4 separate regions of the Homo sapiens genome follow, and all the other regions are reported to be linked to region 1. The links are microRNA targets in miRTarBase. Many come from high-throughput screens and were not tested one by one. Region 1 holds a microRNA gene; each other region holds the end of a gene's coding sequence. Distances are between the middles of the regions.

Region 1 (7,118 bases):
ACCAGCCTGGGCAACATGGCAAAACCCGGTCTCTACAAAAATACAAAAATTACCCAGGTATGGTGGTGCGTGACTATAGTCTCAGCTACTTGGGGGGTGCTGAGGCAGGAGGATCACTTGAACCCAGGAGGCAGAAGATGCAGTGAGCCGAGATTGCACCACTGCACTCCAGCCTGGCAACAGAGTGAGACTCCATCTCAAAAAAAAAAAAGGCCGGGCGCGGTGGTTCACGCCTATAATCCCAGCACTCTGGGAGGCCGAGGCGGGCGGATCACCTGAGGTGGGGAGTTCGAGACCAGCCTGACCTACATGAAGAAACCCCATCTCTACTAAATATACAAAAATCAGCCAGGCATAGTGGCGCAAGCCTGTAATCCCAGCTACTTGGGAGGCTGAAGAAGGAGAATCGCTTGAAGCTGGGAGGCAGAGGTTGCAGTTAGCCAAGATCCCACCATTGCACTCCAGCCTGGGGAACAAGAGCAAGACTCCAACTCAAAAAAAAAAAAAAAAGTGTGACAGAGAGCTTTGAAAACAAAAATTGCAATAAAAATAAACAGACATATAACCCACAAACTTGAGCTAGGTATAATGATGATAAAAACAAAGATAAACTTAATGTTCAAACAAAATCTAAAAAGATAATTTGAAAAAAGTATATAAAGTTAACTGTGAACAAGTGCTCAAAAGACACTCATTATAGAGATGTGACAAACATCTAACAAAATCCAAACACTGGATAAGTTATGTTCATTTGATTTTCATACACAAGGAACTAGGCAACCATTAAGAGCTAAGCTGACATTTTTAACAGGTACATATTCATTCTTCTATAACTAATTAAATTACATCTTCTTTTGTATATCATTATGTTCCTTTATAAACAACTGTATTGGACATCTTATATACATATCCTCACACAAGAGGTATTAGTCCTATTTCCTTTGGGTAAATACTTAGAAGTGGAATTTTTTTATAATGAAACCAAGATAATACTTAAAAGATTTCTTAAATAATTTTCTGTTTCCTAAAAAAATTTTTAAACAATTTTCTAACTATTTCCTTGTGATATTTAATATTCTTCAGAAAAAAATGCAGGAAAATTCCTAATTTGTCTGAAATTTAAGAATTCTACCTTCATTTCTTTAACATTGTATACTTAACACAAACTCATAGTTAACCTATAACCCAAAGATCAGTATAAACGACTGCTGATAAAAGTGGGTGAAACCACTTACCAGTATGTAATCTATATGCTTCCATCTTAATGCTTTACTTCATAAAGCAATAAATCCATCATAAAACCTTGTACTTTACTCAAAGGCCTTATCTCAACACATGCATTACGTGTCCCTTCTTAGGTTTCAATCAGTGAAAATCCACTAGGTAGCATGAGCAACTATGACATCAGCCAATCATTCTGAACTTCGATATCAACCGGAATGAGGCTTATTTAGCGTGTTATGGACATTAAGCAGCATTAAGATTACTAAAGCAACAAAGAAACGACTGCTGTCATCCCACTGTCTTCTGTGTTTTGCCTTTATAAGCAAAAATATTGAAGATTATTAAGACAACTTTTCTTCTGTAACTTACTGGAAGAAGAATGAGGTAAGAGGCTAAATGTTTCACATTTGTTTACTAAATTTAATTCTAGAACAATGTGAAATTTGGAAGGGGAAATTCTATTTTTAGTTTAATCCTAGATTTATGTTTTAAAGCTGACAGAAAACCATTTTGAAGAAATTTTTCTTTATTTAATGAACATAAATTTTTTGAACAAAAGGTTTATTATTGTTAACTGAGAAAAAATTTGAGGTAGCTAAAGTTAACACTCAAATTATATTGGAAATTCCTTGGCTATTTTTACTAAATTTCTCATAATTTCCAGAAGTTAGGGGCTAAGTTTCACTATGTTAACTATAGCATTAATAGCATGAAAGTGATTATAACTGTTTGAAATGATGAAAGAAATTTAACCAACTTCTTTTCCTTCCCAGGTAGCCAGTGTTTCTACATTTTATCTTTTTTATGCTAAAAATTATTTCTTCTGTTTTTATTGACTAGTAACAGATTTCAACCCAAATTCTAATGGCATTATCTCACAGATTCAAAAAATGACCAATGACAGTAAAGTCAGAAATGGAATTATTTCTTGATAAAATACAAATATGATCTAAAATGCAAATGACACTATTAATTCAAATCAAAATAAAACATCAGCGTTTCAAATCTACCAGTCCCTAAACTTATTTAGAACATGAATAAATCGAGACTTTCTTCTGTGAAACAAGTATACTTAGAGATATCGTACAGCTCCCATGATGAGCAAAAGGAATCTCCTTATATGTTTAATGGTGTTATCAAGTGTAACAGCAACTCCATGTGGACTGTGTACCAATTTCCAGTGGAGATGCTGTTACTTTTGATGGTTACCAACTTGCTACAATATAAAGGTATAATAAAGAAAGACAGAAAATTGTGGTCACTTGGACTCTCATTTGATTCCAGCAGAAAAAAAGATTTTCAGCCTGTTTTATAAAATTAACAAATGATTAAGAATTAATATCAATTTTCTTAAATTCAAGTTTTGTAACACCAAAAAGATCCAATAATGGAAGAGGATTAAAGTCATCATTCAGAAATGGTATACAGGAAAATGACCTATGAATTGACAGACAATATAGCTGAGTTTGTCTGTCATTTCTTTAGGCCAATATTCTGTATGACTGTGCTACTTCAATATCAGAAATCGACTAACACCACGCAACCAACGCAATGGCAGGTACACAGAAGATAATCTGTAACACTACCATGTAAATGTATTGAGTAAATAAAACATAAATATACCTAATGAAAACTTGTGTTTTTCTGACAAAGCTCATATTTATTTAACCTAACTTACTGACCAGTCAACCTATGTACCATTTAATTATCAGGATGTATCAATTAAACCAGTTTGCTATATTTACTAATACATACATATGATCCACCTCAGAGTCCAGAGGGCTATTCCACCAAGGAATCCCCACCCACCTCAATCACTTCAGTGAAATTCCCTAGACATCTTGCTCTCTAAATAGTGAAAAGAAGAGTAGCCGGGCACAGTGGCTCACGCCTGTAATCCCAGCACTTTGGGAGGCTGAGGCGGGCGGATCACTTGAGGTCGGGAGTTTGAGACCAGCCTGACCAACATGGAGAAACCCCGTCTCTACTAAAAAATATATATATATAAAATTAGCCGGGCGTGGTGGCACATGCCTCTAATCCCAACTACTCAGGAGGCTGAGGCAGGAGAATCACTTGAACCTGGGAGGCGGAGATTGCAGTGAGCTGAGATCGTGCCACTACACTCCAGCCTAGGAAACAAGAGTGAAACTCCATCTCAAAAAAAAAAAAAAAAAAAAAAAAGAAGAGGAGACAATGACATGGCTTATAAAACTTTCCAAAAAAAAAAAAAACTTTCCAGTGTGAAATTTTAAACAAATGTTTGTGGAAACTCGTCTCAGGTATAATCACTTTAATTCTTTTTCTTTTAAACTAAGTCTGAGGCTGGGCATGGTAGCTCATGCCTGTAATCTCAGCACTCTGGGAGGCAGAGGTGGATGGATCCTTTGTGGCCAGGAGTTCGAGACCAGCCTCGTCAACGTGGCAAGAGCCCATCTCTACTAAAAATACAAGAATTAGCCAAGTCAGTGGCGCGTGCCTGTAGTCCCAGCTACTCAGGAGGCTGAGGAGGGAGAATCACTTGAACCTGGGAGGTGGAGGTTGTAGTGAGCCAAGATCACATCACTGCACTCCAGCCTGGGTGACAGAGTGAGACTGTATCAAAAATAAAATAAAATAATCTGAACTGGACAGAATTTACATTAATTCTTAATGTAAGTATTAAGATATTAGTAGTTTACATCTGACCAAGCTCTGTAAGAACACCACAGCAACAATATTTAGATTATTCCTAAAGTCTTACCTCAGATCCAACTTATAATAATATTGAAATAGCTTTCCAATGACTTTCCAGTCTCTAGCCTCTACTTTCTTTTCCTAAAACATACTCTTACTCCTCAAGTCTACTTAAAAGTTTAAACTTCTTAATAGCATAATTTAGAAAAAATTCCATTCACCAAATTAAAAAAAATTGCTCAAAGAAAATGAAAATCTGGAATGTGTTCCTAAAAGGAAGAATTAACATTCCCCTCTCCACATCTGTGAAAAACAGCAACAACACTCAAAGCCTCCCTAATATTACTAGAAGATAAACTAGCTAGACTATTATCTCATTAAAAACAGGGGCCATGTCAGTCTTGTTCACTGTAGCAACTAGCAGTTCCTAGCACTGACACGTACTAAGTGCTTGACAATGTGTTCTGTTTTGTTTCGTTCTGAAGAGACAGTGTCTTGCTCTGTCATCCAGGCTGGAGTGCATTGGCATGATCATAGCTCACTATAACCTCAAACTCCTGGACTTGAGCGATCCTCTCGCCTTAGCCTCCCAAGTCGCTGGGACTACAGGCCCACACTACCACACCAGCTAATTTTTAAATTTTTCTGTAGAGATGGGGTCTCACTGTAATCTTGAACAGCTGGCTTCAAGCAATCCTGCCGCCTTGGCCTCCCAAAGTGCTGGGATTACAGGCATGAGCCACTGTGCCCACATAACAATGTTTCTTAAGTGAATACATGAATAGCTCATCATCTATGGAATACTGTGCTTTACACCAAGTAGTTTGCATTTATTATTTAGTATTCATAACAGTCTACCTGCAACCATTGCTTTTCCTATTTTATAGAGGAGCCAGAGGCTAAGTAAATTCCTCAGTCTCACACACAGTGAATGGCAAAGCCTGGGTTCAAATTCAGTTGCCATTCTCCAAAGCTCACAGATTTCCAAGCAACTTCTCTTTCGAAAAGCACAAAAGGGAGCTGTTCGGGATAAAAGAATTATTCTAAGACACAATTATGATAGTGGCTGTAAAACTTAACAAATTTACTATAAATCACTTATAATAAATGAATTTTTCTTTTTTAATTTTTTTGAGATAGAGTCTCACTCTGTCACCCAGGCTGGAGTCCAGTGGCACGATCTTGGCTCACTGCAACCTCTGCCTCCCAGGTTCAAGCAGTTCTCTGCCTGAGCCTTCGGAGTAGCTGAGATTACAGGCCCGCGCCACCATGCCTGGCTAATTTTTGTATTTTCGGTAGAGATGGAGTTTCACCATCTTGGCCAGGCTGGTCTTGAACTCCTGACCTCATGATACACCAGCCTCGGCCTCCCAAAGGGCTGGGATTACAGGCGTGAGCCACCGCACCTGGCCATGAATTTTATAGTATGTAAAGTATGCTTTAATAAAGCTTAAGAATGAGGCTGATCTATGTGTAGTGATTTGGAATAAATCATAACACATAAAGTGAAAAAAATCTAGGCACAGAGCAGAAGATAGAGATACTCTCTTTTGTATAAACATATGTATGTGCTGACAGAAGAATTCATTTTTTCTGGAAAGATTCAGAAACAGCTGTAAACAATGACTGCCTCAAAAAAAGGTTCTGGATACCTGGAGTAGGAAAAAGCCTACTTTTCAGTGTACAAGCTTTTCTACTATGAATTGTTCACTATGTCCATCTATTACCTTTCCAACTCAAAAAAAAAAAAAGGGAAAAACTGGGAATATAATCATCAGTGTAATCATGTGCATTTAACTACAATTTCTTAAATTTTAAGTATCTACACAATTACATAATCCCATTTCCACTGAAAAGGAAAGCAGACTCAGAATGTGAGAGTGATTCTCTTCATTCCTTTAGAAAAAATACATTTCAGGCTCCCCTGCTAAACACTGTCCATCTTTGGATCCATGATACCTTAATACAGCCCAATAAATTCTCATAGAAAAAAAGTCAGAGACTTTACTTCTAAGTATCAATATTTAAGAAAATCTAGTTAATATTTTAACTGTATGATAGAATTGTTTTGAACTTATATTTTAGTCCCCCAAAAGACTATTTTAGCATATTTTATTTAACATATATAAACGGTTCTTAATCATCCACATTATTTTTCAATTTTTGAAGAAAAAATATTTCACTTTAAAACACTAAAAAATTTTAGAAAGCATTCTACCTGTTGATCAAGTATTCATCCTTGGTCTTATGATGAAACACAGGAATTGGAACACCCCAAACTCTTTGCCTTGATATACACCAATATGGCCGCCTGTCCATCATTTCAACCATGCCATTCAGTGCTGATCCAGGAATAAATTTCACCTTTTTTAACAATTCCTGCAATTAATTCATAAATCAAGTCTTGTGAGAGAAAGCAGAACAAGTATTCTAGAACAGTCAATTTTCCAAATGCATTTGTTTCTTTTGGATGTTTGTAGCCATTCACATACCTCCCTTACCCTCCCCTCAAAAAAACAACTAAAGAACTAAAAGATTTCAGAGCAAATAAGGCAAAGTAAAAATGGAGCCGCGAAGAACTTAATAAATAATATCGGGAGCAGTGATAATATCAGGAGCATTGTTGCATTTTTTAACAATGTTACAAAAGATTTCATACCAATTTCTAATTTACACCAACCCTAGATCAAAACTGGTAATAAAAGCTTTCATAGAACTATTATACTTCACTAAACTATAGTTAAAATCAATTCAAACTTGATTTCCACCATTTTTTAAAATGCTTAAAAAATAAATTACTATCGTAGACTGCCAAAAAAAGATTGCGATATACCTAATTTTACATAATATAGTTTACAACACAGAAAACACTTTCTCAAAATAAGCCCAAGTATGTGGTTCAAACCTGTAATCCCAGCATTTTGGTAGGCTGAGGTGGGAGGATCACTTGAGCCCAAGAGTTCAAGGTTGCAGTGAGCTATGAGCATGGCAGTGCACTCCAACCTGGGCGACAGAGCAAGAGCCTGTCTCTAAAATAAATCTCTCTCTCTCTCTATATATATATATCTATCGACAAATGGCTAACAGTTACTTCCTCTCAAGAAAGCTCCCTTCCTCCATTCCCAAAATAAGGTTGAAAACTGCTACCATTTGATTTAATTTGTCAACTAGCAAAAGATTAACTGTATAGCAAAAATGTTTACTAATAGTCTCCAAAA
Region 2 (7,118 bases), not on the chromosome of region 1:
ACCACACCCAGCCCAGAATAAACTTTTCTTTAGTGAATTTCCAAGTCCACCTCCTCTCCCTTTCCTGGATACATTCACTTCCCCTCTGCCATCTCCTGCCCCACCATTTTCTAAGCCACCACTAGATACGTAAAATTGTATAAATTGTATACAACCACTGTATCAAGTATAAAGTATAGATATAATGAATAATCCTATTTTGCACAGAAAGAAACCAGGGCTCATGTGTCCCATGTCACACAGTTAGTGAGTGGCAGCCTGGATTCAGCTCCACGCCTGTCTGACCCAGAGCCTGAGTGCTTTCCTTTCACTCCATCCCTCAACTCTTACCTGGATCTGTCTCCCGGTCCCCCTCCTACTCAGACAGCCACCTGCTGTCATGCTCTCCCTCTGTCTAGAGACTCTCTGGACTGGACGAGGAGATCCAGGGGCAGTAGCAGGGCTGGTAAAGGGTCAGGCCTTTCGGGGCAAGGGACTTAAGGCTGAGCTGACTCCATCTCTGTCCCTGCATCCCCCAGGGCATGACCCTGGATTGTGTGGAGATTTCTCTGGGCCGTGTGTTTGCCAGTGGCCAGGCCTATGTGGCCCTTTCTCGGGCCCGCAGCCTGCAGGGCCTACGTGTGCTGGACTTTGACCCCATGGCGGTTCGCTGTGACCCCCGTGTGCTGCACTTCTATGCCACCCTGCGGCGGGGCAGGAGCCTCAGTCTGGTAAGAGGGAGTCATCCAGTGGTGGGCTGTGGCCACGGGCAGGGTGGGAGCTAGGACAGAGGGAGCGCCGGCCCAGTGGGACCTGGGGTGGGGGCAGAAAAGCCCTCTGCTGGCTCCTTTAGGGGTGAGGGCAAAAGGAAAGAGATGCTGGCCCCCAGGTTATGGTCCTGGGGAACAGCACAAACCCATGACTGGGCTTCTCTGGCTCTGATCCAGGAGTCCCCAGATGATGATGAGGCAGCCTCAGACCAGGAGAACATGGACCCAATCCTCTGAGCCTCACCCACAAAGAGAAGACAAAGGGTGGCCTGTGGCCTCCCCGTCCTCCTGCTCCCTAGTGGCCCAGGGCCCCAGGGAATAACTGGAGTAGGCAGGCAGTGTCCCCTTCTGTATTTTTTAGGGACTCTCAGCCTCCTGGCAGGGTTAAAGGGAGAGTACTTTAAACCCATATACCAGCTGTGCTTCAGTTTCTCTCACTTTGCCCTGGGTAAGCTGCTGTAGGGTCAGAAGTAACCCTTTCTGTGCCAGTTGAGAATGAGCCTGTGTGGTAGCTGATGTCAGAGGACAAAGCTCTCTGCAAGGGCTGGACACAGAGCTGCAGAGTCCTGAACATCCCTCCTTTCAGGCTGCAGAAGGGAGAGGCAATGAAGACAGGTGCTCCGGAAGCAGCATCAGGGCTCTTGGAGGGGACTGGTGGGGACTCAGGCTGGGTGCAGCCTCCAAACAGAGAACGGAACTTAGGTGTGTCTCTACAGCTAGGCCCAGCCTAGCCCAGCCCAGAACAAACACCCTTCAGAGCCTAACCAAAGAACATAAGCTGCAAAATGTGCACCCATATTTTAAGCTGCTTTTTCAGGGGATAAATAGTGTTTGGGGACATTGAAATGGATGTTCTCAGGTTGTATTTATTTCGGACAAATAAACTAGAGAATTGTGTAAAAACTGTGCCTCCTGCCTCCTCTCTCTCCCCCTCTCACTTGTGCATGTGCACACACGTGTTTGTTTAGGCCACAGTGGCTGAGATCACACCCTTCTGTGAGGTGGTCTTAGTATCACTGGTCGTTTGAAAAGCTGAGTTATCTGATGTTGGTGACTAGCAATAAAATGACATTGTCACCGGGCATGATGGCTCACGCCTGTAATCGCAGAACTTTGGGAGGCCGAGGCGGGTGGATCACCTGAGATCGGGAGTTCGAGACCAGCCTGACTAACATGGAGAAACCCCATCTCTAGTAAAAATACAAAATTAGCCAGGCATGGTGGTGCATGCCTGTAATCCCAGCTACTCAGGAGGCTGAGGCAGGAGAATCACTTGAACCCGGGAGGTGGGGAAGTGGAGGTTGCAGTGAGCTGAGATTGCGTCATTGCACTGCAGCCTAGGCAACAAGAGTGAAACTCTGTCTCAAAAAAAAAACAAAACAGAAATGACGTTGTCATTTGGTGAAGGTGAGTTACCATCACCCAATAGTCAGACATACTAGAGAATTCACGTGGTGGGAAACAAACAGGCCTGCTATATGTTGCTGCATTTGCTAGGAGCCTGGGTTGAAATTTCTCAGTTTGAGCCTTGATGGTCTCCCCAGCTTGAACCTGATCATCAACAAACTAACTTCAGTTTTTCAAAAAGCCTGATGGAAATTGCCCAGGGGTCCTCATAGGCTAGCTAAAACTAAGATTCTCTGCTTGTGAGTGAAAAGGTATCGATTCTGGGTGGTAAATATGGGTTATGATGGAGGCATGCATTGGCAGCTACAGGTGTCAGATTAATAAAAAAGGTGGCTGGGGCCGGGCGCAGTGGCTCACGCCTGTAATCCCCAGCACTTTGGGAGGCCAAGGCGGGCGGATCACGAGGTCAGGAGATGGAGACCATCCTGGCTAACACAGTGAAACCCCGTCTCTACTACAAATACAAAAAAATTAGCTGGGCATGGTGGTGGGCGCCCGTAGTCCCAGCTACTCTGGAAGCTGAGAATGGAGTGAACCCGGGAGGCGGAGCTTGCAGTGAGCTGAGATTGCACCACTGCACTCCAGCCTGGGTGACAGAGAGAGACTCTCTCTCAAAAAAAAAAAAAAAAAAAAAAAGATGGCCTGATAAGGTGGCTCACACTTGTAATCCCAGCATATTGGGAGGCCAAGGCGGGTGGATTGCTTGAGCCCAGGAGTTCGAGACCAGCCTGGGCAACATGATGAAGCCCTTGTCTCTACCAAAAAACAAAAATTTGCCGGGCACAGTGGTGTAGTCCCAGGAGGAACTCTGGAGGCTTGAGGTCAGGGGTTCAAGACCAGCCTGGCCAACATGGTGAAACCCCATGTCTACAAAAATTAGCTGGGCATGGTGGTGCCACCCTCCCTGACCTGGAGAAGTCAATTTTTTTTTTTTTTTTTTGAGACAGAGTCTCGCTCTGTTGCCAGGATGGAGTGCTGGAGTGCAGTGGCACGATCTCAGCTCACTGCAACCTCTGCCTCCCTGGTTCAAGCGATTCTCCTGCCTCAGCCTCCCAAAGAGCTGGGATTACAGGCACATGCCACCAAGTCTAGCTAATTTTTGTATTTTTAGTAGAGACAGGGTTTCACCATGTTGGCCAGGATGGTCTCGATCTCCTGACCTTGTTATCTGCCCACCTTGGCCTCCCAACTGCGCCCGGCTGAGTCAATTGTTTTTCTGTGACACAATTTCTTTTCTCTGTTCCAAACAGAAGACACTCTTAGGAGCAGAAAACAAGCCCACCAGAGTGACACCTCCTTCCCCTACCCCACAACAAGTGGGCAACCATGGGGGTCTTTAAATGTGGTGCCATTTATATGTCAGATGTTCCCAATTTCCCCATGCAACACATCCCTTCTCCCAGGTCCAGCTGTGAGCAGGTCACACTGAGGCCCTGCCCTCAGGGCAGTTACAATCTGGTTGCACTTTGCTGCTTTCACTCTTTCCTTCTACTGAACACACGGTCTGGGGACCACCCAGTTCAGCCCAGATAGCACTATCTCATATTCTCTAACAGCTCTGCAACCTTCGGTGGTCTTGGATGGAAAGAGGAGAAACTGACTCAGGATAATTGAAGCAGGAAAGGAAGATAACAACAGGCTATCTCAAAGAACTGATATGAAGCCCAGAAAACTAGGCTTGGAAACAAATAGGAATCAGAAAGGCTAGAGCCACTGGCAGGAGTAGAGCTGGGAGCAGTCAGGCCAGGAAGACCTTTGCAGCCGCCACCAGACACTGAGCACAGCTGCCAGGGGCAGGAGCTCTGCACTCTGCTACCTCCTCCCCCGATTCAGTTCAGACCTAAAGGCGGGTATGGGGCTGGGTGACCTTGGTCTCCCATGCAAGTCCTGTGGCTACTGGCAAGAGGCCAAATGTTTCATCAAGTTGCAAGAGGGCCTAGTGATTCTGTCCAGGATGACTCTCTAATCACCCCCGAAGGCCGGGTTGTTGGGGATGTCTGAGGGTCCGGTGATGCAGTTATCTTCTGCATCCTCACCTGGGACTCCTCTCTCTGACTCCATCCTCCACACATGGCTGAGGCATCCCACTCACCCAGCCCCTTCCCCTTCCGCAGGGGCTGATCACAGCTTTTCCCAGTCTCATATGCATCTGTCCTGCTATATAAAATGTCTTTCTCGTGAGACTACCTGGGCACCGGAAAGTCCTCTCCTTAGCAATCCCTTCTCATGGTGAAGATGCTCTCTGGAAGGCCCCCAGAGGAAGACAAGTGAGTTCCACATGGTGGGTGAGCTCCAGACATTCCTGACCCGCATGCCAGATCACAATAGTGGATTATTTTATGAGGTGTGCAAGAAACCTCACGGCTCTCTATTTTCTTGACATCTAATTTAACTTAACTTTGAGCCTGTATCCCGAGGGGTGTAGGGAAACCCTATCTCAGTCAGACAGGAGGCTCCTCAATCCCCAGGGTCAAATGAGAGTGGGGCTTATAGGAGCCGCTCTCATCTTCAGGGCCCGCCCTGATCACCATCCATAGGCAGTAACTCAGCCTGGGCCCTGGGATGGGGTGGGAGGCTTTCTGAGACTCTCCAGTACCTCATGCCAGGCCCTCTGGGCCCCTGCCACCTCCCTGTGGTGCTCCCAGAGGACCCTCTGACCACTTGCCCCTCCCCAGTCTATGGAACCCTCCTTCTCTCTGCCTCTCCTTCCCCCCAGCATCATCCTCTCAAGGAACTTTACCTGTGAAGCAAAGGCCAGGAAAGACTGTGTCCTCAGATAACTTCTGGATTTGAGGCAAAGAAGCACAGGGAGAGCCATATACGGTGGCTCGCACCTGTAATCCCGGCACTTTGGGAGGCTGAGGTGGGTGAATCACTTGAAATCAGGAGTTTGAGACCAGCCTGGGCAACAAGGTGAAACCCATCTCTACCAAAAATACAAAAAATTAACCAGGCATGGTGGTGCGTGTCTGTGGTCCCAGGAGGCTGAAGTGGGAGGATCACTTGAGCCCAGGGGGCAGAGGTTGCAGTGAGCCAAGATATCATGTCACTGAAACTCAGGCTGGGTAACAGAGTGAGACTCCAGCTCAAAACAAAACAAAGCAAAAATACACACACACACACACACACACACACACACACACACACACACACACACACACACCCAGCACATGGAAAGGGGCAGGCAGACAGCAAGGGAATGAACAAAGAAATAAGGAAGGTAGAGAGCTTACCCTTAGGCGACCAGGACTTGCTACCTGCCCAAGAAAGCTGCCCTCATATAGCAGGGTGTGGGTGGAAAAACTCCAACTGCTTTTTCCTGTTCTCTCAACAGCAACAACAATTAACACAGAGAGAAGACTTCTGTGACCAAATGCAGGGACTTCTTCCCATCAACAAACAAGCAATTCTGTAGCGGACACTAGCTGGGTGTCCTCTAATTTAATTCTGAAGCTATCTACCTGGAGGCAGCCTCAGATCCCACAGGTTGAGGACTCAGTCACCAAAACTGACAGCCCCTTCAGACAGTCACAAGTCTGGGCCTCTGGAACTTCTGACCGACTGGCTTCAAGTTGGGGTTCCCAAGACCCCCCTCTTTTGGTTTGATTAATTTCCTAAAGTGAGTTACAGAACTCAGGGAAACACATTTATCACTTTATTAGAAAAGGATACGTGGGGGAAGGGGTGTGGAGCTTCCCTCTGTGGGAAAGCCTTCCTCCACTAATATCCACTTGCTCAGCTACCCAGAAGCTCTTAGAACCTCTGCTTTGGGGCCTTTTATGGAGAATTCATTATGTAAGCATGATTGATTAACCATTGGTCATCAATTTAACTTTCAGCTCCCTCCCCTCCCCTGAGGTCATAGGGTGGGGCTGAAAGTCCCAACCCTCTAATCCTGCCCTGGTCTTTCTGGTGACCAGCCCCATCCTGAAGCTGCCTAGGGGCTGCCGGCCATCAGGCAATCATCAGCATACAAAAAGACACTTATCACTTTGGAGATTCCAAGGATTTTAGGAGTTGTATGCCAGGAAATGGGGATGAAGACCAAATGTATATTTCACATTCTTACAGGCTGTGCCACTGCTGATGGGGGCAGGGGGCACCCCTTCATTTCTGTTTCCTTCCTAGTTGGGGGATTTCGCACTCTCCTCTCCACTCTCCCACAGGAAGGCTGGAGTTGACTTTGCCAGGTGGACGAGTTGGAGAAAAGGTGTTTGGAGAGAGGAGCTACACAGTGCAAATGCACAGAGATGTGAACTATCCTTGATGGACCTATGGTCCACTTTAAAGGCTTTAATGCAAGAGAAGGTGGTATGTGGGGAGGCTGGCCTGGCCCTGAGGGGGCTGAGCCCAGAGTAGGGGGCTCAGCCCAGGGCGATCCAGTCCCCAGCTGGGAGGCAGGCAGGGGGCCAGGCAAGAGGGGCGGGGCGATGGCCCTCAGAAAGATAATCTTATGACCTGACTTGTCACAGTTCCTGCCACTTCTCAAAGACATTCACCCTTGGAGGGGGAGTCCCACTACCTGCTGTCCCTCCACTTGCCTCCTGTGCCTTATGCTCCCTCCTCAGTGTCCCCTGGGATCTGCATCTGAGGGTAGTGAGCAATTTACAGCTCAGTCTCCCTGCTAGGATGAAGCGGATCCCTTGATCCCGAGAGACACAGCTGAGATGTCTTTGTGTCCTCACAACCCTCAGCAGGATGACTTTTGAAAGCAGATGCTTCATTAAATGTTTCATAAGTGAACAAAGGCTTGGACAGTGACCTGAGAGGTAAGGAATGTTTACTCCCATTCTGCAAAGGAGGTAGCTGAGGCCTGGAGAGGTTCTTAGTGGCAGAACTGGAACTAGAATAGAACCCTGAGCCCTGTGCGCTCCTTCACCCTGTCTTCAGTGGGGTGCCAACTAGGCCTGACCCCATCCTTTCTGACGTCCTGGTATATTTTTCCCATCCGCACTGGGCTAA
Region 3 (7,116 bases), not on the chromosome of region 1:
GGCATGGTGGCGGGCCCCTGTAGTCCCAGCTACTCGGGAGGCTGAGGCGGGAGAATGGCGTGAACCTGGGAGGTGGAACTTGCAGTGAGCTGAGATCGCGCCACTGCACTCCAGCCTGGGCGACAGAGCGAGATTCCGTCTCCAAAAAAAAAAAAAAAAAAAAAAAAAATGGTGATCAGAGAGTAGGTATGGTGAGAAATGAGGGGTGGGAGCAGAATGAAAGGACATAGAGGCTGGTCCACTTGGGTTGGTAGTTAATATTAATAGTTGGGCGCACTTTTCATTTTACTGGAAACTCAAAGCATTTTCCTTTCTGTTTTGTAGGCCACGAAACTGGCTACTGCTTTCGGATGTCCTTAAGAAATTGAAAATGTCCTCCCGCATATTTCGCTGCAATTTTCCAAACGTGGAAATTGTCACCATTGCAGAGGCAGAATTTTATCGGCAGGTTTCTGCAAGTCTCTTGTTCTCTTGCTCCAAAGACCTGGAAGCCTTCAACCCTGAAAGTAAGGAGCTGTTAGATCTGGTGGAATTCACGAACGAAATTCAGACTCTGCTGGGCTCCTCTGTAGAGTGGCTCCACCCCAGTGATCTGGCCTCAGACAACTACTGGTGAGCAAGCTGGACCCACCATGTACAGTGTGTTATAGTGTTAATCCTTGTGCATATGTGTCATAATACAACTATTTCTGTAAAGAAAGGACACTATTACATATGAAAATATCTCTTCTTTATATAAGAGAAATTACTCCAGTCAGAAGGACTTAGAAACATGTTTTTTTCCTTTTAAACTTTTAAGTCAGTTTTTATGAAGTTGTTATAATGTTTCTTTACTTTTCAATGCACACATGCTTTGGGATACGTTTGTTTTTACTTGGAACATTTGTTTCTTTTCTTTTTTAAGGAGAAAAAAAAATGAGTAAAAGGAGCTCCACACTTTGACTTAATTTCATACAAAGCTCTGATGACAGGCCATGACTGTAGAGTGGTCAGAACTGTGTGGTTGGTTTGAGGGAGCGAATTCGGGGAAGGCACTTGGTGATATAACTTTGTTTTGTTTACAGAGTACCTGCTCGGGCCAGGTAAATGCTATTGGATGTAATCCAGTAGTGTGTAATATAAATTCAAACCATATCCACACACAACAACTAATTGTATGAAACTTTTATATCCTAATTTAAAAGCTGTGAAATTAGTTTTCACGCATCAAACCGGATTGTTTATATGTTTAAACATTTTATGCTCTTATTTAAAGAAGACTTTGAGCTATTTTTTTCTGTACCCTGTAAAATATTGAAAACTAACATAATATGTTGAGGTTGCTTGGAAATGTACATAAAACTAAAATTTTCTGAATCGTGTGTTTATGTTTGAAATCTGTGTTTTAACTTTGTAAGTAAATTCTCTGCCTTTGTATTTATATTTTACAAAAATTTTCTTAAAAGGCAATAAAACTGTTGAGGAAAGGAGAAAATTGAAGTACCTTGTGTCCCATGTATTCCTAAAGCATTATTGTTGTCCCTGATTCTTCTTAAATGGTGCTGGTGATGTATTCCCTATAGATAACTTTAGAGCAATTTATAGTCTCTGGAAACCAAAGCAGACTGGAGGATTTTGGAGGAGTTATACTCAGAATATAATTTGGAGTCCTATTCTGAAAGCCCAATTCTTGGACATATTTCCTGTCTCTTAGAACCTTCTCTTTCCTGTCTCCTTTGATGCTTATGGAGGCTTTTGCACTGCCTTTGGCCTTGACCTATTTCAGTCCCACGTCATGGCCAACTCTCTAGGAGTGTTTTTTCTGAAGCTAGGCATTTGTTATGTCACTTCTGCAGCCCTTCTGTTGCATGGCCTGAGAGTCAAGGCCTGTAGAGCCAGCCTTTCCTCTGTTCTTGACTTTTCCCAGCAGTATCTGCACTGGGCACTATCAGTTGGCCCTTGATTTCCATCTCACTTGCTTTTGTGCCTGTCCTTCACTATAGAGGCTAGAAAGCTGAAAACTACTTGACTCCCTTGCAGCTAGCTTTCTGAGTGCATATTCTGTTTGGAGGGCAGCATGAGGTAGGGGCACCTTCCTACTATAGTGGCTGCGGATAGGAAAATTTGAAGAGAATGCCAGCCAGTTGGAATGACTGACCAGCATTCCAGTGTCTGGTTTTCAGCTTGGTGGGTGATGAGATACAGTAGTGGTTGTGGCAGTGGCAGCTTTCTAATTCTTGGATGACAGCCTCAGCAGATTGTTCGTGAACCCTGTGGATCCAGAGTTGTCCCTGACTCCTGTTCCCCCAGCCCTTCCAAAGACCTTATTCATCTGGGTCCTTGTGTCAAATCCATTTGTGCACCGAATGCCCTCAGTGCTTTCTGATCCTGCATGGAACACTAGGACTGCGAAAGCAGAGGAAAGAGGCTGTGGGGACACTGTATTTGTCAGGCCAGCAAACACTGTGGAAGAAAAAAAAGGAAAAGTGAGGCATTGTTGGGAATGAAGAAATTCCATGTGAGGAATGCAAGAGCCCTTTTTGGGGGAAGGTTGGCTACGAATGAAGTTTGGAGTGTATCTTGAAGACAAAAGGCAGCCTACCATCTTATTTACTAATTTTTCTGATATTAGAAAATGTATACCTTATTTAAAAAACCCAATCATGTCAGAAATAGACACGTTTCCTATTATCCCCTCCCCTCCCCCACCCATGTTAACCACTATTAACAGTTTACTTAGTTTTTGTTTTACAGGAAGTCCCCTCAAATAGCTAGGGGGAGTGTTGAAGGGAAAAAAACAGACGACAAGACCAGTAAAACAGACCTGTAGAAATGATTTAAGCAGAAGAGGACTGGTGAAGCTGAACTACCATCAAAGCTACGAGAGATCCTACACACCCAGATTTAAAAAATAATAAAAACTTAAGGGCATCCGGCTCTTTGTATTGGGGTTGGAGGCAAAGGGGGAGCCCAAGGCCAACTGAGATTTTTATCTTGGATGAAGGTCATTCTGTTAATTAAGCTAGGAAAACAGGTGAGAGCCACAAGGTTAGGGTGTGCAGAAGAAGCAGCTTGGTGCAGGAGACATTTAAGGCTGTGGTTCATGCAGTTGGAGGAGCTAGTAGTCAGAACAGTTAGTGCAAGAACTGTCAGGGTGGTTGGAAACATGGACGTAGAACTGACTGGGGGTATAGATGAGATCCCCATGGCTGAGAAAGGTTTGGATGTAGAGCAATGCCCCACCCCTGCTCAGGAACTCCCCATGGGTAATAGAGCTCACCATGAACATAGAGTGGGCCACAGGTATGGGCCAGATCACACTCCACAGGGAGAGGGACGCGTCACCAGAAGGTAGGGGAGCTTATTGTGTGTTGAGAGGAACTCAGCATGGGTGTTCAAGTGCTCACCACAGGTTTGGAGCAATCATGATCTAAGGTCACCTCGGGCGTTGAAGAGCTCTCCACAGGCAAAGATGTTAACACAGGTGTAAGTGAGATCCCACTGCAGGTAGAGTGCCCATTCCAGTAGAACTCCTCCTGGGGGGAAGGGAGTGGGTGTAGAAGACACCACAGGCATAGATGAGATCGTATTGGCCGTATAGAAACACCATGGGTTTAGAAGAGCTCACCAGAGGTACAGAGCAGACCTTTATAGGCCCTCATTTGGGTGTCCAGGAACCCACCAGCAACATAGAAGAGTTTCCATGAAGGTCAACATGAGTGCAGTGGAGCTCACCACGGGTAGACAGCAGAAGTGGTTCATTCCAATTCTGAAGGTGTCCCTTAGGATCAGGACATGCTTTCCTTTGCCCTGTCCTCCCTCTTCCTGGCTAGAATGTGGCTGCTCTAGCTATAGCTGTCACAACCACCTTGGACCATGAAGTATCGAAGTCGAGCACTGCTGGACAAGTTTGAAGGAGCATGGGTCTTTGAGAATCTCCTGGAACCAAGCCACCATACCAGCCCTACCCTACCTGCCATTTACGTTAATTGATGTAATAGCAAAACACCCAAATCTCCATCAGTTGGGCACTGGTCGAGTTAACAATGGTACACCCACACAGTGGAATACTATGCAACTGGAAAAAGAATTGAGGAATAGTTCCCTAACTTGCTTTAGAGTGGTCTTCCAATTATTATTATTTTATTTTATTATTTATTATTATTATTTTTTGAGACAGTCTTGCTCTGTTGCCCAGACTTGGAGTGCAGTGGTACAACCTCTGCTCACTGCAACCTCTGCCCACTGCAACCTCTGCCTCCTGGGTTCAGGCAATTCTCCTGCCTCAGCCTCCCAAGTAGCTGGAATTATAGGCACCCGCCACCATGCCCAGCTAATTTTTATGTTTTTAGTAGAGACAGGGTTTTACCATGTTGGCCAGGCTAGTCCTGAACTCCTGGTCTCAGGTGATCCACCCAGCCTCAGCCTCCCAAAGTGCCAGGATTACAGGCGTGAGCTACCATGCCTGGCCTATTTATTTTTTTGAGACAGGGTCTCGTCTCGCTCTTGCCCAAGCTGGAGTGCAGTGGTACAATCATGGCTCACCACCGCCTCAACTCCCCAGGCTCAAGCAATCCTCCTGCCTCACCCTCCTGAATAGCTGGGACTACAGACAAGCACCACCATTCTGGGGTAATTATTTTGTTTTTTTGGAGAGATGGGAGACTTGCTGTGTTGGCCAGGCTGTTCTCCTGAGCTGAAGCGATCCACCCACCTTGGCCTCCCAAAGTGCTGGGATTACAGGAGTGAGCCACCACACCTGGCCTGAAAACATTTTTATAGTTGTTTTCAGTAATCTTATCTTTGGTAGTGTCAGTATTGTTATTCTGAGTCTGTCCTGTTTGTGTCGTGAGATAAAACAAAAGGAAATGTTGGTATTGAGAACTGGGACTTCAACATGAGAGAAAGGAGATGAAAATATAGAATTGGCAAGGTTAGATAAATTATCCAGCCCTGAACATGAATTGTAAGTATCACTATGAACTCATGATGTATTAATATTTTATCTTAGGAAAGTTTGTTTCCTAGCTCTGTCCTCTCAAAAAGCCTGGAAACAATGACTGATAGAAATGAGCACCATAGCTCCCAGCCTATGGTTTCTAAATACCTTTCCTCATTAAAAACAACTGAGCTTTATTTGAGAAATGGTTGATTCCAGTTTGGGGCAGGGAAGAATTGGAAGGGAGTATAGATATATACAAGAAGCCAGTGGGGTTGTGTCAAAAAAATTAAGCCTTCCAAAGTGCTGGGATTATAGGCCATGAGCCACAGTGCCCGGCCAAAAGTAAGTTTTATAACATATGTTGTTTAACTCCGTATATCCGAAGTATTACCATTTTGACATGCAATCAATACAGAAATCATTAACGAGACACTTTTGTTTTTTATACCAAGACTTTAGAAACTCCAATGTGTATTTTACATTTGCAGCACTTTTCAGCTTGAACTGGCCACATTGCCAAGTGCTCAGTAGCCACATGTGGCTACTGGCTACCACACTGGACAATGTAGGTCTAAGTCTACTTACCAGTTTACAAGAAATACAAGGGGCAGAGAAACACGTTAGGACACTATGGGTATGCATTCAGCAAAAGCCAAACTGTGAGACTCTATAAGACACATGGGGCTGGGCACGGTGGCTCAGGCCTGTAATCCCAGCACTTTGGGAGGCTGAGGTGGGTGGATCACCTGAGGTCAGGAGTTCAAGACCAGCCTGATCAACATGGTGAAACCCCGTCTCTATTAAAAATACAAAAAAATAAAAATAAAATTAGCCAGGCATGGTGGCGGGCGCCTGTAATCTCAGCTACTCGGGAGGCTGAGGCAGGAGAATTGCTTGAACCAGGGAAGTGGAGGTTGCAGTGAGCCGAGATCACACCACTGTACTCCAGCCTGGGCAACAAGAGCAAAAACCCATCTCAAAAAAAAAAAGACACATGGCTCAGTTTATTTAACAAATAACTTGCAAGGGGAAAAAAAACAGAGGAGGAAACCTCTAGACTAAAAGAGACAAGAGAAATACCAGCAAATGTAAAGCATGGATCTGTGAGTCTGATTTGAACAAACTATAAAAAAGAAAAAAAAATTGCAAAATTTGTAAAAACCAGGGAAATAGGAATGCTGAACATATATATATATATATATACATATATATATATATATATATATACATATATATATATATATATATATATACATATATATATATATATTTATATATATAATTTTAAAATGTGGTGTTGCTCTGTCACGGAGACTGGAGTGCAGTTGTGCAATCACAGCTCACTGCAGCCTCTACTGCCTGGTTTCCAGCAATTCCCCCACCTAAGCCTCCCAAGTAGCTGGGACCACAGGCGTGCACCACCACAACCAACTAATTTTTTTTATTTGTAGAGATAGGGTCTCTTTGTGTTGGCCAGGCTCATCTTGAACTCCTGGGCTCAAGCAATCCTCCCGCCTTGGCCTGGGATTACAGACGTGAGCCACTAAGCCTGGCCCAGAACTTTTTTTTTTTTTATTCCAAATCTTTTGGCAATGTGTGCTGAAATCTTTATGTATATGATATCTGGGATTTGCCTCAAAATCATCCCAGTGGGAGGAGAAGATGGAGATGTAGATGAAACAAGCCCCATGAGTAGGTAATTATTTTTATTTATTTTTTTTTTTTTTGAGACGGAGTCTCTCTGTCACCCAGGCTGGAGTGCAGTGGCGCAATCTTGGCTCACTGCAAGCTCCGCCTCCTGGGTTCACGCCATTCTCCTGCCTCAGCCTCCCAAGTAGCTGGGACTACAGGTGCCTGCCACCACACTCGGCTAATTTTTTGTATTTATAGTAGAGGTGGGGTTTCACCGCATTAGCCAGGATGGTCCCGATCTCCTGACCTTGTGATCTGCCTGCCTTGGCCTCCCAAAGTGCTGGGATTACAGACGTGAGCCACCGCACCTGGCCGGGCCATCAGTAGGTAATTTTTGAAGCAGGAAATGGGTACATGGAGGTCTCTGAATTGTGCACTTCTCTCTATTTTTGTGTGTGTTTGAAATTTTCTACAATAAGTTATTTTTTGAAAGAGAGCATCTCAGCCTGGGCAACCTGGGGAGACCCCATCTCTATAAAAACTTTAAAGGTTGGCCGGGCAGG
Region 4 (7,099 bases), 110 Mb from region 1:
CCTTCCCAAAGAGGATAGGACCTCCCAGGATGCTTCCCAGCCTCTCCTCAGTTTCCCATCTGCTGTGCCTCTGGGAGGAGAGGGACTCCTGGGGGGCCTGCCCCTCATACGCCATCACCAAAAGGAAAGGACAAAGCCACACGCAGCCAGGGCTTCACACCCTTCAGGCTGCACCCGGGCAGGCCTCAGAACGGTGAGGGGCCAGGGCAAAGGGTGTGCCTCGTCCTGCCCGCACTGCCTCTCCCAGGAACTGGAAAAGCCCTGTCCGGTGAGGGGGCAGAAGGACTCAGCGCCCCTGGACCCCCAAATGCTGCATGAACACATTTTCAGGGGAGCCTGTGCCCCCAGGCGGGGGTCGGGCAGCCCCAGCCCCTCTCCTTTTCCTGGACTCTGGCCGTGCGCGGCAGCCCAGGTGTTTGCTCAGTTGCTGACCCAAAAGTGCTTCATTTTTCGTGCCCGCCCCGCGCCCCGGGCAGGCCAGTCATGTGTTAAGTTGCGCTTCTTTGCTGTGATGTGGGTGGGGGAGGAAGAGTAAACACAGTGCTGGCTCGGCTGCCCTGAGGGTGCTCAATCAAGCACAGGTTTCAAGTCTGGGTTCTGGTGTCCACTCACCCACCCCACCCCCCAAAATCAGACAAATGCTACTTTGTCTAACCTGCTGTGGCCTCTGAGACATGTTCTATTTTTAACCCCTTCTTGGAATTGGCTCTCTTCTTCAAAGGACCAGGTCCTGTTCCTCTTTCTCCCCGACTCCACCCCAGCTCCCTGTGAAGAGAGAGTTAATATATTTGTTTTATTTATTTGCTTTTTGTGTTGGGATGGGTTCGTGTCCAGTCCCGGGGGTCTGATATGGCCATCACAGGCTGGGTGTTCCCAGCAGCCCTGGCTTGGGGGCTTGACGCCCTTCCCCTTGCCCCAGGCCATCATCTCCCCACCTCTCCTCCCCTCTCCTCAGTTTTGCCGACTGCTTTTCATCTGAGTCACCATTTACTCCAAGCATGTATTCCAGACTTGTCACTGACTTTCCTTCTGGAGCAGGTGGCTAGAAAAAGAGGCTGTGGGCAGGAAAGAAAGGCTCCTGTTTCTCATTTGTGAGGCCAGCCTCTGGCTTTTCTGCCGTGGATTCTCCCCCGTCTTCTCCCCTCAGCAATTCCTGCAAAGGGTTAAAAATTTAACTGGTTTTTACTACTGATGACTTGATTTAAAAAAAATACAAAGATGCTGGATGCTAACTTGGTACTAACCATCAGATTGTACAGTTTGGTTGTTGCTGTAAATAGGGTAGCGTTTTGTTGTTGTTGTTTTTTCATGCCCCATACTACTGAATAAACTAGTTCTGTGCGGGTACAGCACTGTCACTGTCCGCTTCTGTGTGGTACCCTGTCCTCCCACAGGGAGGAAGGTCTGGTCTCTGGAAAACAGAAGAGCCGGCAGGGCCCAGAAGGCCCCACCGGGAGGTCGGGAGACTCAGACACCACTGGCTGATAAGCCTGTCCCTCTGCCCATGTCCATGACACTGCTCCCAAATAGCTGGATCAGCACAGAGCCCATTTCCTGGCATTTCCAAGGAAGACATGGTGGGCGGGCAGGAAGGTGTCCTTTTCACCAGGACGGAAAGGACTTCTACGGTGGGAGAGGCTGCACGGGGCAGGCAGCCTTCCAGCCCAGCCCCTCAGGGCTGAGTCCTAGACAGGGATGAGTTTTCTGGGGCAGAATTCAAGAAGCAGGGAGGGCTGCATTGAGAGGCTGGTTGGAATTGAATGGTGGTCAGTGACTCAGTGCCTCCTAACTATACTGCTCAGGGTTGTTTTTTGTTTTTTTTTTCCCATTGGAAAATGAAGCAGCTACTCATACTGAAGCCAAGTGTGTGCTTTGCAACATTACTTCTCAGCCTAAGTTTTGTTTTTGTGTATATATATGATATATATTTAAAAGTATATATGCTTTTTAAATTTAATAGAGGCGGGGTCTCACTATGTTGATCAGGCTGGTCTTGAATTCCTAGGCTCAAGTGATCCTCCCGCCTTGGCCTCCCAAACTGGGGTCACAGATATGAGCTACCGCATCCGGCCTAGTTCCAAGTTTTGTGTTTGTCGAAGTTCCATTCAATAAACTAGAAAGGCAGCTGGGTGCGGTGGCTCATGCCTGTAATCCCAGCACTTTGGGAGGCCGAGGTGGACAGATCACCTGAGATCAGGAGTTTGAGACTAGCCTGGGCAACATGGTGAAACTCTGTCTCTACTAAAAATACAAAAAAATTAGCTGGGTGCGGTGGTACATGCCTGTAATCGCAGCTACTCCAGGGGCTGAGACAGGAGAATCACTTGAACCTGGGAGGTGGAGATTGCAGTGAGCTGAGATCGTGCCACTGCACTCCAGCCTGGGTGACAGAGCGAGGCTCCATCTCAAAACAAACAAAAAAACTAGAAAGGGAGTTAACCTGGGGACAATATAGGGTGATGATTAAGAACACAAACCCTAGCTGGGCAGTGGTTCACGCCTGTAATCCCAATACTTTGGGAGGCCAAGGCATGTGGATCACTTGAGGCCAGGAGTTAAGAGACCAGCCTGGCCAACATGGTGAAACCCATATCTACAAAAAATACAAAAAAGCCAGCTGTGGTGGTGCATGCCTGTAGTCCCAGCTACTAGGGAGGCTGAGGTGGGAGGATGGCTCAAACCCAGGAAGTAGAGGCTGCAGTGAGCCAAGATCGCACCACTGCACTCCAGCCTGGGTAATAGAGCCAGACCTTGTCTCAAAAAAAAAAAAAAAAGGACACAAACCCTAGAACCAGACTGAATGACTTAATCTTTCTGAGCCTTAAGTTTCTCTGCCCACAAAATGAGGATGATGATAAAAGCATCCACCTAATTGAGCTTTTATGAGGATTAAGTGAGTTAACACATGTAGAGTGCTTGGAAGAGTTCATAGTACATAGTAAGAGGCCAGTAAACACTGGCTTTCTGTGTTGTTGCTACTGGGTGCAATGGAAGAGTGCACAGAGAGAAAAAGTAGAAAGCCAGGCCCAAAGGGAAGGAGACAGGCAGGTGGCTGAACAAGAAGGGCAGCCATGGCAGGAGGGCCTCCTCCCTGACTGGCACTGCTTACTGAAAGTGCTGCTGAAGCAGGTTTAGAGTGGGAGGAGGTGGGGTGGGGACAAAACTCAAGGCTGACCAAGAGGGCGAACAGGATGTGCCATGCCCTCTCCAGCCGCCAGGTGGCAACAACACATGGGTCTGCAGCTTGTTTTGCCTCTAAGGACCCACCCTGGACATGGCTCCACACAAACATGTCACCTTCTGGCCTCACCCAGGTGTGTACCTAAGCCTGCTGACCTTCCAGTGCTTCTATTGGCCCAGGAGCCACCAACAGGCCCTGCTCACTAGACACCAGTGCAGGGCGCAGCTGGGAAGCACACCTGAGGTTTCTTGCCTTACGCCAAATTTCTCCAGAGCTGAATACTCCGTGTCTGTCTGCATACCCCTTCCCTCCCACCGATTCCTGGAATCCCAGAGGCTGCGGGAGTTGCTGCAGAATTCAGGGAAAGGTGCATATCTAGGCATTGTCACTGAAGTAGGTGAATGTGCCAGGTGAACCTTGGAATCAGCCACAAAAAGGGGAAAGCAGTGATGGGCCTCTGGCTCCAGGGACAGGGCAAGGACACTTTGGTGCCTAAGTCAGGCATTTATGGCCAAATAGGCATGGGTGGGGGCACCAGCTGGCAGTCCCACTTCTCTTTGCCCACTTACCTGCTGCTTTTCTCAAGTCATGGCCTGACCTTCAGGGAGGGAAGTTTCCTCAAAACTCAGAAGGAATTGAATTGGTTCTGATTACTAGAGTTAAAGGCTGCAAAAAAAGGGAGGCCCTACACCAAATCTGTTAAACGTGTCTTTGTTATTCCTTCAACAAACACCATCTTGCACTCGAATATCTTCTGAATAAATAAACTAAATGCTCTGCTACACACAGGTCACAACACTAGGGTACTGCAGAGGTTTCCGGATCCTGACGCTCACCCCCAAGTCTAACAGGGGAGATGAGGAGAGCACAGACAACCCCAGTGATGTTAGTTGGAGCCTGACTAGGTGTTCCAGCAGCTCTGGCTGAGGTGATCAGGGAAGATGAACACCACCAAAGGGCCTTCACGTCTCACAGGGAGAGCAAACAAGAAGCTGGTGCGTTTCTAGGAGGCTCCATTATTTTGCCAGTAAAGGACATTCAAGTTTAGGATATAAATAAGAATCTACCTAGATCCTAGCTTAATAGCCTCACATACTGTGAATTAAGCTACACTTAACTTTCATCTGGACCTTCCAATGATACCTGAGACCTGGGGAAAGGCAGCCTGTCCTTGTCTAATGCCAACAAGGGGAGCAGTCACAGCCTGATAAGCTGGAATCTCAAGGCCCTAGGGCCTATTCAGGCCCCTGCCTAGGAGGCCCATCCTGGCTCCCTGCCTGGAATTAGAGATTTACTCCAAATTTGTTAGAAATTGGAGCAGGGGGCTGGGTGCGGTGGCTCACACCTGTAATCCCAGCACTTTGGGAGGCCGAGGCGGGCGGATCACGTGAGGTTGAGAGTTCAAGACCAACCTGACCAACATGGAGAAACCCCATCTCTAGTAAAAATACAAAATGAGCCAGATGTGGTGGTGCATGCCTGTAATCCCAGCTACTCGGGGCGGCTGAGGCAGGAGAATCCCTTGAACCCGGGAGACAGAGATTGCAGTGAGCTGAGATCGCACCATTGTGCTCCAGCCTGGGCACCAAGAACAAAACTCCGTCTCAAAAAAAAAAAAAAAAAAAAAAAGAGAAATTGGAGCAGGGGCTGGGTGCGGTGGCTCACACCTGTAATCCCAGCACTTTGGGAGGCTGAGGCGGGTGGATCACCTGAGGTTAGGAGTTTGAGACCAGCCTGGCCAACATGGTGAAACCCCGTCTCTACTAGAAATACAAAAAATTAGCCGGACGTGGGTGGCAGGCGCCTGTAATCTCAGCTACTCGGGAGGCTGAGAAAGGAGAATTGCTTGAACCCAGAAGGTGGAAGTTGCAGTGAGCCCAGATCGCGCCATTAAACTCCAGCCTGGGTGACAGAGCAAGATTCTGTCTAAAAAAAGAGAAAGAAATAGGAGCAGGATCGACTTCCAGATATACAGAGAATATAAAAATACATTCACTTTATTTTAGAAAAATGAAGACTCATAGAGTAAGCTTATCACAAACTGGCCTATTAGGAGTCACAGAATTCACAGGAAACAATTTCTGAAGACCAGGTGCCTGCTGCCACCTCTCCAAGCAGGCCAGAGTCCAGTAGAGAATGCGATTCAGGAAGATGGCTCCTCAGAGGGCAGGGAGGTTAGCTACGGAGGCCGCTCACGTGGAAATGTCCAGTGAACCAATGCCAAGGAAGAAGATAAAATTCTCTGGGGCTGACCACAACAGTGGGGGTGGATAAAGACAAACCACTTGCCTGTACTTCTCATCTTCTATTTGTTCATTTCACTGCTGGAAGGTGACCTCTTTTCCCCTAATCTTCTTTCAACCCAGAGAGTTTAAGTCTTCTCCAGCTCAATCCTAATCCACCCCATTTCCCATGGTCTCTACTCCTGGGAGACCAGCCCTGGTGGCATCTCTTCCTCCTGTCCCTGGGCCAGAATCTGCTGGAGTCAGGGTCTGCTGGGTAGAGGCGAGTCCAGGTACTGACTGTAGTGGTTTGCTACTGAAGTCTTGCTTGCTGTCCTGATCTCTTTACCTAAAGAAATAGAAGGAATAACTGCTTTAAAATGCCCTTCTTCCTCAAGCCCATTTGTCACCCAGCAGAATTCAAGCTCCTCAGGGTGGGAAGAAATGGGATCCCCCTTCCCCTGCCCCAGGCTCCCCTCCTCTCTCCATCTTTCCATACAAAATTCAGGGCTGATGTGCATAACAGCTTGGAATCCCAGATGATGGCGGGGTAGGGAGACAGGATGGGCAAGGGAGGACCAGACTGACCTGGTAGGTCCTGGGACTGCCACTTTCCTGGGGGGCTGCAGATTGCTGCGAGTGGCACCCATGACAGGAAGATTTAGTCGCTGGGAAACAGGAACTTCATGGGGGTTAACAAAAGAAATGAGTTAGCAGCAAGTTTAACTGACCTCGAAAAGAAATACTGGATGAAGGGAGCGAGTGTGGGATTAGTACTCTCCCCCTGACCATGAGGTATTTGAAAACTAAGACTCAGACTCTGTCCAGCCCCATATCCTCTCTGTAACTCAGTCTCCCCATCTTCCAATTGAATTGCAATAAGGATGGCAAAAGTGGTCACTGTTGACAGCTCTGGGAGGGTGAGGACACGCTGGGCAAGGGCGGGCATTCTTCCTCCTGACCTCTTACCCTTGTGTCCACTTTCCCGCACTCTGTGTCCTGCAGTGCTTGGTCTTGGAAGCCCTTTTCGAGTTGACAGAGAATCCGGAGGTAGGGCACCTCTGCCAGGTGGCACACTCCGGCTGGTGAGTGGCATTCGGCTGGCAGGCCTGGGGATGGCCGAGGGAATGGGCAGTTGACTGGAAGATTTAGCAGCTGCTCCCTGCGGCCGGGGCAGGCGTTGAGAGTTGCTGGTAGAAGGCTGTGGGGCCAGGACGGATCTGATGGGGGTGGGTGGGCCTGGTGGAGAGGGGTGGAGAAATTTCAGGGTCAATCCCACAAACTCCCCACTCCCACTCACCCGCAACTTGGCTGCTCTGGTCTCCTCACTGGCTGCTGCTCTCCCACTGGGCCCGGCTCTCCCCCGGACTGGGGGAGTCGATCGGGTAAGAGGAGAAGATGCTGGGCTTTTGGATGCAGGGAACAGATTGCAAGTGGGTGACTCCTGAAACACAAAGAGAGAGAGAAAAAAGACTAGAGTGGAAAAAATATCTGTTCTGTGGCTTAAGGAATTAAGAAATAGAGGTGGAGAGTTGTCTACATCCCAGTAAGGAAGGGTAGAAGTTAGCTGCTAACATCACCACATCACCATCACCATCACTATTGCCAATACCATTTATTGAGTTTATCATAGACATATACTCAGACACTGTGGTAAGAGTTTTGGTTCTCTTTTTTCATGGTTCTCATTTAATTC

What was found. Region 1 holds the annotated microRNA hsa-miR-215-5p (AUGACCUAUGAAUUGACAGAC, at 2,657-2,677, shown strand). A microRNA usually pairs through its seed, bases 2 to 8, with sites in the 3' UTR of a target mRNA and lowers its output. Matches are read on the target gene's strand: a 7mer-m8 pairs with bases 2 to 8, a 7mer-A1 pairs with bases 2 to 7 and ends in A, and an 8mer does both.
Region 2: miRTarBase lists PIF1 as a target of hsa-miR-215-5p. The part of its 3' UTR that is shown has no 7-base or 8-base seed match.
Region 3: the mRNA of BCOR is a reported target of hsa-miR-215-5p. The part of its 3' UTR that is shown has no 7-base or 8-base seed match.
Region 4: miRTarBase lists PSRC1 as a target of hsa-miR-215-5p. The part of its 3' UTR that is shown has no 7-base or 8-base seed match.

Annotation. Positions count from the first base shown.
Region 1 is chr1:220,113,475-220,120,592 of GRCh38, reverse strand. MIR215 (microRNA 215) reads left to right here and starts at 2,631; the gene lies at 2,631-2,740. It overlaps IARS2 (isoleucyl-tRNA synthetase 2, mitochondrial), which reads right to left. Exons shown (of 23, transcript NM_018060.4): 12 at 6,119-6,279. It overlaps MIR194-1 (microRNA 194-1), which reads left to right and starts at 2,352; the gene lies at 2,352-2,436. LOC124904515 (a long non-coding RNA gene) reads left to right here and starts at 1,480. Exons shown (of 2, transcript XR_007066883.1): 1 at 1,480-1,608; 2 at 2,710-2,851. RefSeq lists an enhancer at 5,751-5,920.
Region 2 is chr15:64,810,166-64,817,283 of GRCh38, reverse strand. It overlaps PIF1 (PIF1 5'-to-3' DNA helicase), which reads left to right. Exons shown (of 13, transcript NM_001286496.2): 12 at 519-710; 13 at 927-1,652. The coding sequence ends at 986. Among named protein-coding and RNA genes, the nearest start is that of PIF1, 12 kb to the left of the region's middle. RefSeq lists enhancers at 5,513-6,018, 6,019-6,526.
Region 3 is chrX:40,045,609-40,052,724 of GRCh38, reverse strand. It overlaps BCOR (BCL6 corepressor), which reads left to right. Exons shown (of 15, transcript NM_001123385.2): 15 at 325-1,474. The coding sequence ends at 616. Among named protein-coding and RNA genes, the nearest start is that of LINC03053, 40 kb to the right of the region's middle.
Region 4 is chr1:109,274,405-109,281,503 of GRCh38, forward strand. It overlaps PSRC1 (proline and serine rich coiled-coil 1), which reads right to left. Exons shown (of 8, transcript NM_001032291.3): 5 at 6,733-6,847; 6 at 6,373-6,642; 7 at 5,992-6,085; 8 at 5,152-5,752. The coding sequence ends at 5,749. CELSR2 (cadherin EGF LAG seven-pass G-type receptor 2) reads left to right here. Exons shown (of 34, transcript NM_001408.3): 34 at 1-1,347. Among named protein-coding and RNA genes, the nearest start is that of PSRC1, 5.2 kb to the right of the region's middle. RefSeq lists enhancers at 1-1,879, 3,021-3,770, 3,063-3,357, 3,442-3,501 and cis regulatory regions at 560-579, 564.